Regions from separate parts of the Homo sapiens genome. Here region 1 is linked to region 2. The links come from fine-mapping of genetic effects on gene expression. A gene starts in region 2. The other region holds a variant in brackets. All regions are shown on one strand. Distances are from middle to middle. Region 1 overlaps TMEM87B (transmembrane protein 87B). Region 2 holds the start of TMEM87B (transmembrane protein 87B).

What was found.
Region 1: its variant is fine-mapped to the expression of TMEM87B in fibroblasts (GTEx, PIP above 0.99).

What each region holds. Positions count from the first base shown.
Region 1 is chr2:112,116,635-112,121,028 of GRCh38, reverse strand. It overlaps TMEM87B (transmembrane protein 87B), which reads right to left. Exons shown (of 19, transcript NM_032824.3): 19 at 1,715-4,394. Among named protein-coding and RNA genes, the nearest start is that of FBLN7, 20 kb to the left of the region's middle. The variant A/G (reference allele first, on the strand shown) is at 2,567.
Region 2 is chr2:112,053,189-112,057,582 of GRCh38, reverse strand. TMEM87B (transmembrane protein 87B) reads right to left here and starts at 2,314. Exons shown (of 19, transcript NM_032824.3): 1 at 1,827-2,314. The coding sequence starts at 1,991. RefSeq lists enhancers at 1,173-1,512, 1,543-1,612 and silencers at 2,343-3,072, 3,273-3,322.

The DNA.
Region 1 (4,394 bases), 63 kb before region 2:
CTAGATTTTCTGATACATAGTCTAAGGCACTATTATTATTATTATTATTATTATTATTATTATTATTATTGAGAGTCTCGCTCTGTCGCCCAGGCTGGAGTGCAGTGGCACAATCTCGGCTCACTGCAAGCTCCGCCTCCCAGATTCACGCCATTCTCCTGCCTTAGCCTCCCGAGTAGCTGGGACTACAGGTGCCTGCCACCATGCCCAGCTAATTTTTTTCTATCTTTAGTAGAGATGCGGTTTCACTGTGTTAGCCAGAATGGTATCGATCTCCTGACCTCGTGACCCACCCATCTCGGCCTCCCAAAGTGCTGGGATTACAGGTGTGAGCCACTGCGCCTGGCCAAGGCACTATTATTTTTACATATTTATGTTGAATATGTTTCTTAGAAAATTAGGGGTAAAAATTAGGCCCTAGGGTATGGTGGGTCCGCAAGATGGAAATAAACCCCGGGTGTCTGAGGGACATGTGGAGGAGGGTGGCCCTTCCCACCTCTATACCTACTGAAGAATTGTCACATGAGCAAGAAATAAACTTTTTGTCTTAAGTTTCTGAAAGGCTAAAATCAAGTTGTGACCACAGCCTGGCTGAGCCTCAACACTAACCATGTATGCCACCCCAGTGCTTTTCCACTCAATCCTTTCTCTACTTTTTTTTTTTTTTTTTTTTTGAGACGGAGTCTCGCTCTGTCGCCCAGGCTGGAGTGCAGTGGCCCAATCTCAGCTCACTGCAAGCTCTGCCTCCCGGGTTCACGCCATTCTCCTGCCTCAGCCTCCCGAGTAGCTGGGACTACAGGCGCCCGCCACCACGCCCGGCTAATTTTTTGTATTTTTTTTTTAGTAGAGACAGGGTTTCACCATGTTGGCCAGGATGGTCTCGATCTCCTGACCTTGTGATCCACCCACCTTGGCCTCCCAAAGTGCTGGGATTACAGGCGTGAGCCACTACGCCCGGCCTTTTTTTTTTTAAATTATCTTTATTTCAAAATAATAATTAATTATGTAATTATTTATGTAATTAAGAATTATGTAATTACTTAATTCTGTAACTTTACAGAAAAGTTGGAAGATAGAATGCATTTTTTCTGAACCATGAGAGTAAGTTGCTCTACCTTATTTTTACATAGATAAGCATTCACATATGTGCCACTGCATCACAGTTCTTATAAGTATTTTTATTATAAATTCTTCATAATTTAATGGCTATACAATATCTCATAAAGTAGCTGGTTAAACCATAATTCACTTAACTATGATATTGTTTGTCTCTAATTTTATTTCTACTTTAATATTATAATAAACACTTTTGTGGAGAAACTTTATTCTGTATTTTGAATCATTTTTTAAAATATCACCAGAATTGACATTATTCAAAGGTTATAAACACATTGTTGAACTTTTCACAAAAAAGGAAATCAACTATATTACCATCATTAATAAGTGTGCTCATTTCATCAGACTTTGAAAGCAAAAGGATTTTACAAATATACCATAGTACAAACTTATGTTAATTTGATTTTTTAAACTATCCCCTATCTTTTGTTTTGCATTTCTTTACTACTACTGAGGTTGAGCACTTTTCCATGTTTGATTAGCTGTGCCTCCTGTTTTAAGAATTTTATGTCCTGCCATCTATTGGAGTCTATATATGTCTATATGTCCTACAGATTTATATAATCTAGCACCAATAAATACTATCAAGAATCAATCATTCAAATTCAGAGCATTTTTATTAAAAGAACAAAATATTAAGGCACAAAATACATCAATTTTTCAAATGAAAACCCTTCAAACGGTTATGTCCTACATTCAACGAAACTTCTTCCAAATTACGGAATAATTTAACTTTTTAAAATAGAAAAATACAAGTTCTTAAATGCCTAAAATTTCTCCCCAAATAAATGTTTTCTTAGTTTTAATGAAGTCTCTTCATGCAGTACTGAGCTCCAATATTATAATGTACACTTCCTTAAAAATCTAGTTTTGCCACTTATATACATTCAATATGTTTAACCAGTATATTAACCAGTATATTAACCAATATGTTAAACTTCTTTTAAGTATAAGGCTTGGTATTTTGTATTGCTTATTGCATGCTTTGATCATACAAAGACACAAGTACCAGAACTAGTGATTATAAATCTAGCATAGCATCTGTCAACTTTAGTCATGTACAGCCTAGTGCAACAGACTCGAACTTTTTTTTAAAAAAAGGATACATAACTCAAAATGTATATGTACATTTTTTATACTTTCAGCTTGACAGTATAGTAATGTAAACATTGTACTGTAATACAAGGGGAAAAGGTGGTATTTTCTACAGGATGTGTAAGTTAAAATATTATTTTCTTTACAAGAAAAATATGGGAACATTCTATCATCTCTCAGGCTTAAAAAATTCACATATTCACATATTTTTCCTTATTTTTACAATAAAATTAATTGCTATCTAAAGCAGATATTTAAATACTAATCTAAATCAAATCATGAAAATTCCCTTTTAAGCAAATTTCACACATCGTATGAATGAATGGCATAACCAGAACACTTAAGCATTTTGCCT[A/G]GAAAAACATCAAACCAGACCCGTATCCTCACTAACAGTGAGACCCACCCTGATGGGGGCATGCTAAAAGTAAACTGATTTGAGTGCCTCAGAGGCCCTGATGGCCAGTTTCAGGAAACTGTGCAGAAACAGGGATGATGAGCTGCTCAGTAGCCCTAGGTATAACTTCTCCTGGTGTCCTTCCTGTGAACTACAGCTATGGCACTAGAGCACCCCTCTTGCGTATGTAAGGGGCCTAAGAAGACCCTTCATAGAAATACTCGATCCAGGTCATCAGTCATCAAGAGATGGCACAAATATTACTGAAGGTGACAGACAGCACATGCCCTTCTAGTAACAGTATTTGTAATGAGGTTACTAGGAGGGAATTCTGCTTTCTCTGGATGGAAGAAAAGTTTGCACTGCAGCCTGTAGCTGAGCTACAGGGTAGCATCATTTATCCTACCAGCTGTAGAAAGACATGTTTTGGTAAACATTACTGAGATTCTGTCAGAGACAGTTTCCCTTTATTAACATACTCACCATTAACTCCACACTCCCACTCTACCAGATTTGCAGCTCCTACTGCCTGCAAGCCCAATATTCCACATTTTAAAATTCAACTAGAGCCACATAATGAGTAGGGGGTCAATCTGTCTCAAAACTTGGGGAATGGGGTATTAGATAAAAATGTTACTGGGCTAAGGGGAGAATACAACAGAACATAAATGCTGGGAATTATAGTGGGTGGGAACCCATTACTGCAGCAGAAACTGAAATAAGAAATGGAATTCACAATTGTTAAACTACTTTTTTTTTTTCTCCCTAGGAAGGATATCCCAAAGCAAGGGCATCTTGAAAAGCATGATTTTCTCGGTAATGTTTGCCAACACTGTTCACTTTCCACATGGTCACGACTGAAAACACATTTACCAATACCTTTCAAGCGATATGACTACCAGAAATAGATCTTCTTTACTACCCTCTCTGAAATGAGTAAACAAGAAATAAATTCAGAAGGTAGGCTTTTGAAAGAAAAAGAAAAAAAATTGCTTGCGGCTTCACAGTGAAAAAAATTGGAGTGTTTGTGCCGGTTAAGATTTTAATGTTTTCTTAATCAAAATTCTCTGAAGTCATTCTCAATTTACAAGGTTAGAACTCCTTCAAAGAAAAGACATACAAGACTCTAGCTTTAATTATTATTCTAAATGTCCACTAGCCCTGTATCTTTGGTCATGAAAGCAGCAAAACATTCACATTTTCATCATACTACATTCAATTGCCTTTCAAGTTTAGAACATTCTACATTTTAAAAAAAGACATTAAAGCAAAAGATTTCATATTACACATTACAAATATATGATGTAACGAAATAAGGTATAAAACATGGTTGAAGCTTAAGAAATTAATTATAAAATCAATAGTGATGTAGCATGCAACTAAATGTATGTTTTTATTATGAAATGTAATATGCCAAGATTATGTAAAAGATACAGTTCTAATTTCCACAAAGTTCACCAGTAATGGGTCTCCCAGCTTGCCAGTTAGGAAGTGCTCTGGGGGAGCCACGTGGCCACCACCCACCCCAGCACACTCAGCAGCATCGCATGTACACATGGCCTGAGTGAGGGACAATGAGGGTAATTCTTTGGTAGTGACCCTCAAGACATCTCTCTCTGTGCACTTGTGTTCCCCTGAGCTCAGAGAAGACCTAACTCCATGATTTGATGTGCATGATGAGACTCAAACAAGGGCTTTGTATAGATTTTTTAAAAAGGGTGGGTTGGGGGGGAGCGGAAAAAACCTATAAATATGCCTATATTCAAACATTAACTGTTTTACTTAATAT
Region 2 (4,394 bases):
ATTTCTTGGCCAGGTGTAGTGGCTCATGCCTGTAATCCCAATACTTTGGGAGGCTGAGGCAGGAGGATGGCTTGAGGCCAGCAGTTAAAGACCAGCCTTGACAATATAGTGAGACCCCTATCTCTACAAAAAAATTTAAAAATTAACTGGTGTGTGGCATGTACCTATAGTCTTCGCTACGCAGGAGACTGAGACTAGAGGATTGCTTGAGCCCAGGAGTTTGAGGCTGCAGTGAGCCATATGACTGTGCCACTGCACTCCAGCCTAGGTAACAGAACAAGACTCTGTCTCAAACAAACAAAAACAAAGAAACAAAATTTCCTGATAGATTTGCAGTACAAATGAAAGAAAGCCCCACTCTCCTTTCCTGTTTCTGACAACCTGAAATGTGGAAAATATAAGTCCACTCTTGGGAGAGAAGGGCTTTTAGACTTCTGGCGGCCCAGGGTCACACAGGAGTAAAATTAGCCTAAAGGTCATGCAGCACTCAAGGAGCAAACTTCTCTTCCTCATGCAGGAAGAAGTACACTTGGCAAAGATCTTTGCAGGTATGTTCACAGTACACTTAGCAAAGATCTATACAGATATGTTCAAGTAATCCAACAATATGCATGCAACTGATTCACTTCCAATATAGTTATATTGACTATTCACTATCGTAGCAGCAGGAAGCCATGAGAGTAGTTCACTGAGTTCTACTTTTTCCCGTTCAGGAAATTAAATAATGGAGATGTGCAGACTATAACTGGCACACAAATTAGGTCACCAACCCAGAAGAATCCAATCCTGGAGGAAATGGCTGCACTAGGTCTTAAAAGATCCAGAAAGATACCCAGCGTGTTCCTCTGAGTAGCTTTTGTGTTGTGGGAAGTATTTGTAGTCTTTGGAACTACTTTCTTTTTCTGGTTAAGGAAATCAAAATATAAGTCTCATCTTTAGAACCTGGACATTATTTCATGCATGTGGAAAATACCCATCCCAAACAGTGCTGGATGAGTCATCTGACCCCAGAGAAGCCGGAGATAATGCCTCTTCCAGACTTCCTGTCTCTCTTTTGCAAGACTTTCCATAATTCTGCCCCTGCATCTCTCCCACATCATCTCCTCTAATTACCAGACGCCAAGTTTTCTAATAGCCTGCCTTGGAAAGAAGAGTTTCCACCCACTCATGCCTCCAGATTCGCCTTTCAAGCACTCCCTAATCACAAGTCCCGCCCCACCTACACACACACTCTCTCTCCCGGAACTGTGACAGGAACTGTAGAGAAATTCAGGAACTCAAGAAGAGAGAAATAGAGGTAGGGTGACTACTGCACGTTTCCCCCTCATTTAAATTTTTTCTTTCTTTTTTTTTTTTAAGGAAGCGGCAGACCCGCTTTCTAAGTTTATGCAGAAACTGAAGCGCTGGCAAGTCCTCCCTGCGGCCTCAGGGGTGTGGCCCACTGTGGCTGCATCCGGACAGGAAGAGTCGAATCCCAAAGATGCTGCTAGATGTGCCGAGAGATTCCTGATCCAGCCAAAACATGTCAGAGCAGAATGAGGGCCACGGCGTCGGGCATGGTGACCCTCAGTAACAGTCCGAGCGCTCGGACCCGAGGGCCGTCCCATGCGCAATCCTGACGGCTCTTGCCTGCAGCCCAGGTCGGGCCGGAGGAGGGGCCGCTCCCCGCTCCCCGGCTGTAACAGACAAAAGGCTCAGGGAGGGTATCAGGGGACCCGGTGCTGACCCGGCAGAGGCAGGGTGAACAAGCCCGGGGTCAAGCGAAGCCGCACGACGGCCCTGACGGCCCGAGACGTGCCACGCCTGGGTCCCGACACTCCACTTACGTCGTTGACTGTCTCTAACCAGAGCCCGAGCTCAGGGACCGCGCGCACAGCCGCCGGGGTCCAGCACAGGAGGCAGAGGGCGACGCGCAGCAGCGGGGCCCGGGCGGGAAAGCAGCGGCGGCGGCGTGGCAGGAGCCCGGCTACCGAGCGGCAGGCGGCGACCATCTTGACCAGGAAGCTGCACCTGGCGCTCCGAGACGCCTGCCACACCCGCACCTGGTGCAGCACCGCCCCAGGCAGGCGGGTCCGAATCCGGGACGCGGGGCTCGGACTCGGGTGTGGAGGAGGGGCTCGCGCTTGGGCCTGGGCGGAGAGGCGCCGTGCAGTTCTGGGAAACCCGGCCAGGACCGGGAGGCAGGGCTTAGGGCTCTGAGCCGGGCCCGAGCGTGCAGCTGGGAGATGCCTGGAAGGCAGAGATAGGAGCCAGGATGTGGAGTTGGCGGCGAGACGTGGAGGCTGGGCTCAGGGCCTAGCGTGGGCGTGAAGATAGAAGAGGAGCCGGAACGTGCAAGGGAGGGCTGGCAGCCCGAGCGCGGAGGCGGGGCCGGGTAGGGAGGCGCCGCCGGAGTGTGGAGACGAGGCGGGGCTCGGGAGTGTGGGGGCGGGGTGGGAGGCGTGGCTCGGGGCCAAGCTGGGTGTGGGGACAGGGCAGGGTTGGAGGCGGGCTCGGGACTGTGGAGGCGGGGCGGGGCTCGGGACCAGGGCGGAGTGCGGAGGCAGGGTGCCCCAGGAAGGAAGAGCTTGGGGCCAGGCCGAGCGTGGAGGCGGGGCCGTGTGGAGGCGGGGCCGTGTGGAGGCGGGGCCGTGTGGAGGCGGGGCCGTGTGGAGGCGGGGCCGTGTGGAGGCGGGGCCGTGTGGAGGCGGGGCCGTGTGGAGGCGGGGCCGTGTGGAGGCGGGGCCGTGTGGAGGCGGGGCCGTGTGGAGGCGGGGCGGGGCTCGGGACCAGGCCGGAGTGCGGAGACAGAGTGCCCCAGGAAGGAAGAGCTTGGGGCCAGGCCGAGCGTGGAGGCGGGGCCGCGTGGAGGCGGGGCCGTGTGGTGGCGGGGCCGTGTGGAGGCGGGGCGGGGCTCGGGACCAGGCCGGAGTGCGGAGACAGAGTGCCCCAGGAAGGAAGAGCTTGGGGCCAGGCCGAGCGTGGAGGCGGGGCCGCGTGGAGGCGGGGCCGCGTGGAGGCGGGGCCGGGATTTGGAGGCAAGACCCGGCGGGGAGGCGGAGCCTGAGCGTAAAGGCGGGGCTGGTCAGGGAGATGGGGTCGGAGTGGGGAGGCGGAGTTGAGGACCAGGCAGTAGTGTGGAGACGGGGCTGGACGAGAAGGGCTTGGGGTTAGGCCGTAGTGGGGAGGCCAGGTTGGGCGAGGAAGCAGGGCTTGGAGCAAGCCCTAGTACGGAGACGGGACTGGGCGGGGAGGCGTGGCCTGAGTGAGGAGACGGGCCTGAGTGGGGAGGCGGGGCCTGAGTGGGGAGGCGGGGCCTGTCTGGGAGATGAGGCGCAGTGGGGAGGCGGGGCTCGCCGCCAGCGAGCGCGAGTGTCAAGGTCCTGGAGTCGAATGCCTAGTAAGTGCTACGGTTGGAGTGCAGTCTAGAGTTCTGTTCCCAGGGTGTCTCCATTTCTTGCGTCTTCTACACTTACCCCTGCCTCGACCCTCTCAGCTGTATGGAAACCGTTCTTTAAATTCAGGGAATGTGCCAGGAAAGTGCTTTGAGGCCAAGGCCAGTTGAACACAAGGCATTGTGTTGTGAAGGTTAACGTTAATAGGACAGTTAATACTTTTCAGAACAAGTAGTTACTTGACTGGCTTAAAGCTCAGAGGGGTCAGGGCTTGGATCCGTCTTATTGTGTACCTTCCCTTGCATTTTCGGCTGTAAGCTGAATACATGTTTTGCTGTCAAAGAGAATTAGTTCATTCATTATCAAATGTAAATAATATCCAGCAAGGGAATAGAATCCTGTGCTAATATTGTTATTAACGTAGAATAAGATCGATTTATAGTCCAAAGGCCTTGGCTGCTTTACCAGTCACCAGTAATTATTGAGGACCTACTATACACTAGAGATTGCATGTGCATCTTCCCAGTAAGCAACGTGATCAGTTCTGTTTAGGTCAGAATAACTGTAACAGGACCACAGGGGAACATCCACCAGAGATTTAGGAAGTAAGTGAGGGACAGAAGGAGAGAACAATACATGAAATTTAAGTTCTACAAGAAGAGTTAAGGGCGAGTTACCTGTGGGAGTGAGGGGTAAGTCTGAAATCGTTTTAGTTACGAGAGAACTGGAGGAATGGAAAGATCTTCCAGATGACTGGATGTTGGTGTGAGACGGAGAGTGGCAAAGCTGGGAATATTTAAACAGTACCAAAACATACAGGCATTCCTAAATTAAGTTAGGCAGATGGCACCTTTAGTTAAGAACACTGGAGAGGCAATGATTTTTTGTTTTGTTTTGTTTTTGAGACTGAGTCGCGCTCTGTCGCCCAGGCTGGAGTGCACTGGCGCGAACTCGGCTCACTGCAAGCTCCGCTTTCCTGGTTCACGCCATTCTCCTGCCTCAGCCTCCTGAGTAGCTGGG